Homo sapiens: one gene and its partner. The protein of the gene in region 1 purifies or fractionates together with the protein of each later gene. This does not show direct contact. Each region holds a gene or a part of one and is shown in the gene's direction. Other genes may lie near its edges.

Region 1 (3,941 bases):
AGATCTTACGAGATCTACCAATCAAACGTAATGTGTGGATCTTGTCTGGATCTTCATTCAAACATCAGCAATGACTTTGAAACACTTGGAAGAGTTTGAATATAGATGGGTATTAAGTAATATTAACTGAATTTTTTAGGTATAATAATGGCATTGTACTTAAGGGTATTTTTAGAGTCACTTAAAGTTATTATGCATTTAAAGAAATGTACAATGAAGTATTTGTGGGTGAAAATTCAGTTTGTCTGGAACGTAAAGATGTTGGAGGGATAGCGTCAAGAATTATGGCAAGACATTGATAATAGTTGATGCTAGTACTGAGTAATTGCAGGTTAATTTTACTCCTCTCCTTTTATGAGATATGAAAAATATCAAAATAAAAGCTTTTTAAAATTGATGCTATTAGAAGAGAAATAGAGGTAACAAAAAAGGACACGCTTCCCCAGAAATAAAATCACCACTGCTGTTACACATTTTGTCTCTATTTAGACAAGCTCTCCAGCCTTTCCCTGTTTACCTTCACTGTTTGACATAACTTCTCTACCTGAGATAGTCATGTTCCTGTACTATTCTACCATGTAATTTTGAGGTGTTTTTCTAGTTATAGCAATGGATTTATGCAGAGTCACCTACCTGGTGGTATCAAATTGCCATATACCGGGTACATAGTTTATTTTTAAGCTTAATCTCTCTTTGAATCAGTTTCCTCATGTGTAAGGTGGGGAAATCACAACAGCCCTATGTGGTAGGTGCTATTATTATCCTCATTTTACAGATGAGGAAATTAAAGCAGAGAGATTAAATAATTTGTTCGAGGTTCACAGCTACTAATTATTCCTATGGTTCATGGAAATAAAACTATAAAGATCTAAATGTTGCCCATGTTAACTACTATTATATTTGAAATTCTTTTTGCCAAGCTAGACTGTTACCTAAATATTTCCTTTTTGCCCAAAACTCAGTTAGCATTGTTGAAAGACTAACGCAATTTCTCCTTCGGGCAGTTGTCTGCTCAGTAACGTCCGGCGATATTAACCGTGGTGTTGTAACTTTACATAGTCCCAGGGTACATACAGGCAGAGTTGGGAATATTACATCTATTATCATCCCACAAAATGTAAGATCCTGTGAGGACCCGTGGTGGCGCTGCAGGATAAGAAGGCACAAACCAGAACCGCAGCTGCAGCTCCATTAACCGGCAAAAAGCAGCAGAACCTGGAAGTCCACGGGGAGCTTGGATGCCAAAGGGAGGACGGCTGGGTCCTCTGGAGAGGACTACTCACTGGCATATTTCTGAGGTATCTGTAGAAAACCACAGCCTCAGATACTGGGGACTTTACAGTCCCACAGAACCGTCCTCCCAGGAAGCTGAATTCAGCAAGAACAATGGAGGCCAGCGGGAAGCTCATTTGCAGACAAAGGCAAGTCCTTTTTTCCTTTCTCCTTTTGGGCTTATCTCTGGCGGGCGCGGCGGAACCTAGAAGCTATTCTGTGGTGGAGGAAACTGAGGGCAGCTCCTTTGTCACCAATTTAGCAAAGGACCTGGGTCTGGAGCAGAGGGAATTCTCCAGGCGGGGGGTTAGGGTTGTTTCCAGAGGGAACAAACTACATTTGCAGCTCAATCAGGAGACCGCGGATTTGTTGCTAAATGAGAAATTGGACCGTGAGGATCTGTGCGGTCACACAGAGCCCTGTGTGCTACGTTTCCAAGTGTTGCTAGAGAGTCCCTTCGAGTTTTTTCAAGCTGAGCTGCAAGTAATAGACATAAACGACCACTCTCCAGTATTTCTGGACAAACAAATGTTGGTGAAAGTATCAGAGAGCAGTCCTCCTGGGACTGCGTTTCCTCTGAAGAATGCTGAAGACTTAGATATAGGCCAAAACAATATTGAGAACTATATAATCAGCCCCAACTCCTATTTTCGGGTCCTCACCCGCAAACGCAGTGATGGCAGGAAATACCCAGAGCTGGTGCTGGACAAAGCGCTGGACCGAGAGGAAGAAGCTGAGCTCAGGTTAACACTCACAGCACTGGATGGTGGCTCTCCGCCCAGATCTGGCACTGCTCAGGTCTACATTGAAGTTGTCGATGTCAATGATAATGCCCCTGAATTTGAGCAGCCTTTCTATAGGGTGCAGATCTCTGAGGACAGTCCAATAAGCTTCCTGGTTGTGAAGGTCTCTGCCACGGATGTAGACACAGGAGTCAACGGAGAGATTTCCTATTCACTTTTCCAAGCTTCAGATGAGATAAGCAAAACTTTTAAGGTCGATTTCTTGACAGGAGAAATTCGACTAAAGAAACAACTTGATTTCGAAAAATTTCAGTCCTATGAAGTCAATATCGAGGCGAGAGATGCTGGAGGCTTTTCTGGAAAATGCACCGTTCTGATTCAAGTGATAGATGTGAACGACCATGCCCCAGAAGTTACCATGTCTGCATTTACCAGCCCAATACCTGAGAATGCGCCTGAAACTGTGGTTGCACTTTTCAGTGTTTCAGACCTTGATTCAGGAGAAAATGGGAAAATAAGTTGCTCCATTCAGGAGGATCTACCCTTCCTCCTGAAATCTTCTGTGGGGAACTTTTACACCCTACTAACAGAGACACCACTAGACAGAGAAAGCAGAGCCGAGTACAACGTCACTATCACCGTCACTGACTTAGGGACACCCAGGCTGACAACACATCTCAATATGACCGTGCTGGTGTCGGACGTCAATGACAACGCCCCCGCCTTCACCCAAACCTCCTACACCCTGTTCGTCCGCGAGAACAACAGCCCCGCCCTGCACATCGGCAGCGTCAGCGCCACAGACAGAGACTCGGGCACCAACGCCCAGGTCACCTACTCGCTGCTGCCGCCCCAGGATCCGCACCTGCCCCTCGCCTCCCTGGTCTCCATCAACACAGACAACGGCCACCTGTTCGCCCTCAGGTCGCTGGACTACGAGGCCCTGCAGGCGTTCGAGTTCCGGGTGGGCGCTTCAGACCGCGGCTCCCCGGCTTTGAGCAGCGAGGCGCTGGTGCGCGTGCTGGTGCTGGACGCCAACGACAACTCGCCCTTCGTGCTGTACCCGCTGCAGAATGGCTCCGCGCCCTGCACCGAGCTGGTGCCCCGGGCGGCCGAGCCGGGCTACCTGGTGACCAAGGTGGTGGCGGTGGACGGCGACTCGGGCCAGAACGCCTGGCTGTCGTACCAGCTGCTCAAGGCCACGGAGCCCGGGCTGTTCGGTGTGTGGGCGCACAATGGCGAGGTGCGCACCGCCAGGCTGCTGAGCGAGCGCGACGCGGCCAAGCAGAGGCTGGTGGTGCTGGTCAAGGACAATGGCGAGCCTCCGTGCTCGGCCACCGCCACGCTGCACGTGCTCCTGGTGGACGGCTTCTCCCAGCCCTACCTGCCGCTTCCGGAGGCTGCCCCAGCCCAGGGCCAGGCCGACTCTCTCACCGTCTACCTGGTGGTGGCGTTGGCCTCGGTGTCTTCGCTCTTCCTCTTCTCGGTGCTCCTGTTCGTGGCGGTGCTGCTGTGTAGGAGGAGCAGGGCGGCCTCGGTGGGTCGCTGCTCAGTGCCTGAGGGCCCCTTTCCAGGGCATCTGGTGGACGTGAGGGGCACCGGGAGCCTGTCTCAGAACTATCAGTACGAGGTGTGCCTGGCAGGAGGCTCAGGGACGAATGAGTTCCAGCTCCTGAAACCAGTATTACCTAATATTCAGGGCCATTCTTTTGGGCCAGAAATGGAACAAAACTCTAACTTTAGGAATGGCTTTGGTTTCAGCCTTCAGTTAAAGTAATTGATTTCATATTATATATTTTAATTTTTATGATCAATTCAAAGGAATGGTTTTCTGTCAACTTAGCATAAATTTTAAATTACACTACATTTGCCCATAGTATTTGTCTTGTTTTCACTGTTTTAAAAAATGATATCTCATCTTCTCTT
Region 2 (2,746 bases), on another chromosome or scaffold:
CAAGACCAGCTTGGCCAAAATGGTGAAACCCAGCCTCTACTAAAAATACAAAAATTAGCCAGGCATGGTGGCACACACCTGTAGTCCCAGCTACTGGGGAGGCTGAGGCATGAGAATCGCTTAAGCCTGGGAGGCAGAGGTGCAGTGAGCCAAGATTGCACCACTGCACTCCAGCCTGGGACAGAAAGTGAGACTCCATCTCAAAAAAAAAAAAAAAAAAAAATTCCTTCCGTATGTACTGAACATCATGCTTACAAGCGATGTCTTTGATTCTGCCCTGCTCAGCCAGAGATCCCCATTCCTACGTAGAGCTCTAATGCAGCTGTTGCTGGATCCTCTCCTTTTCTTCTTGTTTCTCTAAGGTATTAAGAATTCAGTTTAAGCTGAATACTGTAAAGGCTGTGACTCCTTCTTTTCCCCCCTCAGGATTTCATCTTCCAGAATCTGCAAGAAGAATCTGCTTATTTTGTGGGGCTCTCAGATCCAGAAGGTCAGCGACATTGGCAATGGGTTGATCAGACACCATACAATGAAAGTTCCACGTGAGTATAGAATGAGATAAAAGAATCTTGGGTCCTGGATCATGCAGAGAGCTTAGGGTATTCTAGCTATCAGCTATAAAAGTAAAATAGCTCACTCTTCTTTTAGCTCTTGGGTACTAGGTTAAATAATTTCATTATCTCATTTAATCTGCGCAAGAACCCTATGAGGCACACATTGTTATTTTTCCCACTGTAGATATGAGGAAATTGAGCTTGGAGAGTGTAGATAATTCAGCTAAGGTCACCCAGTGGTGTCAACAATTGTTCTCAAATCAGGTGGATCTTACTGTGCTTTTAACCCGTATATTTACCTGTCTCTACATAGTGAAAACCCATGTTGATTAAGATCATAACCAATTATTAAGATTTAATAATGCTTTTTTTTTCTTTTTTGAGACAGGGTCTTACTCTGTCAACCAGGCTGGAGTGCAGTGGTGCAATCATGGCTCACTGCAGCCTTGAATTCCTGGGCTCAACTGATCCTCCCACCCAAGTCTTCTGAGTTGCTAGGATGACAAGTATGTGCCACCACACCCAGTCAGGCTGAAGATGTAATGCTTCTTATGAAGCAAAAATGCTAAATTCTGATAATCTTATATCTCATATTTATGTAATTCTTTAATTGCATAAATTACATACTTTACATATATTACATAAATTACATAAAATACATACTTTACTGGATTACCACCTTCGATCTTCATATCCACTGTATGAAATAAATAGTGATATTACTCTAGTCCTTATTTTTTAGATAGAAAAACTGAGAATCAGGGAAGTTAAATTACTTGTCCAATAACAAGGATAAGTAGAAGATTCAAAAGATTTTACTAGTTCTCTAGACTTTAAAAACAGTGCATTAAAAAAAGGAAAAAACTCTATTGATAAGTGGGACCAGGGTAAAATCTTTTCATCATACAAGGACACCCTATAGGTTGATGGACCCATAGGAACAGGACATAAGGATGGACAAATAGAAGAGAACCTCTAGAAAATCTATGGTGAGGATATTCAAAGCAGTAAGGTAGAGAACATTGAGTGACATAGGCACAGTTTTCAAAGGAAATGCCGGAAATGCAGATGGAGGAGAAGCTGCATGATGAGTAGCAGAAAGGTGGATTTGGGCATATCTGACCCTATGTTCCATGAAATTCATCCCTCGCTCCTCACCCCTGTCTCTAACCCTTTTCAAAGCTCTGTTTGAAGAAATGCCCTCATCCTTTTTGTCGCTTTCAGATTCTGGCATCCACGTGAGCCCAGTGATCCCAATGAGCGCTGCGTTGTGCTAAATTTTCGTAAATCACCCAAAAGATGGGGCTGGAATGATGTTAATTGTCTTGGTCCTCAAAGGTCAGTTTGTGAGATGATGAAGATCCACTTATGAACTGAACATTCTCCATGAACAGGTGGTTGGATTGGTATCTGTCATTGTAGGGATAGATAATAAGCTCTTCTTATTCATGTGTAAGGGAGGTCCATAGAATTTAGGTGGTCTGTCAACTATTCTACTTATGAGAGAATTGGTCTGTACATTGACTGATTCACTTTTTCATAAAGTGAGCATTTATTGAGCATTTTTTCATGTGCCAGAGCCTGTACTGGAGGCCCCCATTGTGCACACATGGAGAGAACATGAGTCTCTCTTAATTTTTATCTGGTTGCTAAAGAATTATTTACCAATAAAATTATATGATGTGGTGTCTCCTCCTGTCTGGTTTTCTCTTCATCCCTACTATACTGATATATAATTGTATATATATACTGACATATATATATATTATATTTTATATATATATTATAATATATATATATACACTGACAAATAAAATTGTATATATTTAAGGTTTACACTGTGGTGATTTGACATACATATATATTGTAAAATGATTACCGTAATCAAGTTACTTAACCCACACCCATTATCTTACATAGTTAACAATCTTGTGTGTAGTGAGAACGTTTAAGATCTACTCCATTCTGTCCATTGGTATCAACAAACACAAAGCAAGATCTACTCCCCAAAAAATTTCAAGTGTGCAATGCATCATTATTAACTATAGTCACCATCCAGCACATTAGATCTCTAGAACTTCGTCATCTTAGAACTGAAAATTTGTACCCTTTGACCAACATTGCCTGATTTTCTCCACTGCCCTCCATTCCCTCACAACCATCATTTTACCCTCTGTTTCTATGGATTGACT

The links.
Region 2: the proteins of PCDHB8 (region 1) and CLEC4A purify together in Homo sapiens (co-immunoprecipitation; one large-scale study listed by IntAct). This does not show direct contact.

What each region holds. Positions count from the first base shown.
Region 1 is NC_000005.10:141,176,649-141,180,589, forward strand, and holds PCDHB8 (protocadherin beta-8 precursor), read left to right. Parts: upstream 1-1,141; 5' UTR 1,142-1,386; coding exon 1,387-3,792; 3' UTR 3,793-3,891; downstream 3,892-3,941. UniProt on the Homo sapiens protein: Calcium-dependent cell-adhesion protein involved in cells self-recognition and non-self discrimination. Thereby, it is involved in the establishment and maintenance of specific neuronal connections in the brain.
Region 2 is NC_000012.12:8,136,362-8,139,107, forward strand, and holds the end of CLEC4A (C-type lectin domain family 4 member A), read left to right. Parts: intron 1-426; coding exon 427-542; intron 543-1,778; coding exon 1,779-1,926; 3' UTR 1,927-2,246; downstream 2,247-2,746. UniProt on the Homo sapiens protein: C-type lectin receptor that binds carbohydrates mannose and fucose but also weakly interacts with N-acetylglucosamine (GlcNAc) in a Ca(2+)-dependent manner. Involved in regulating immune reactivity.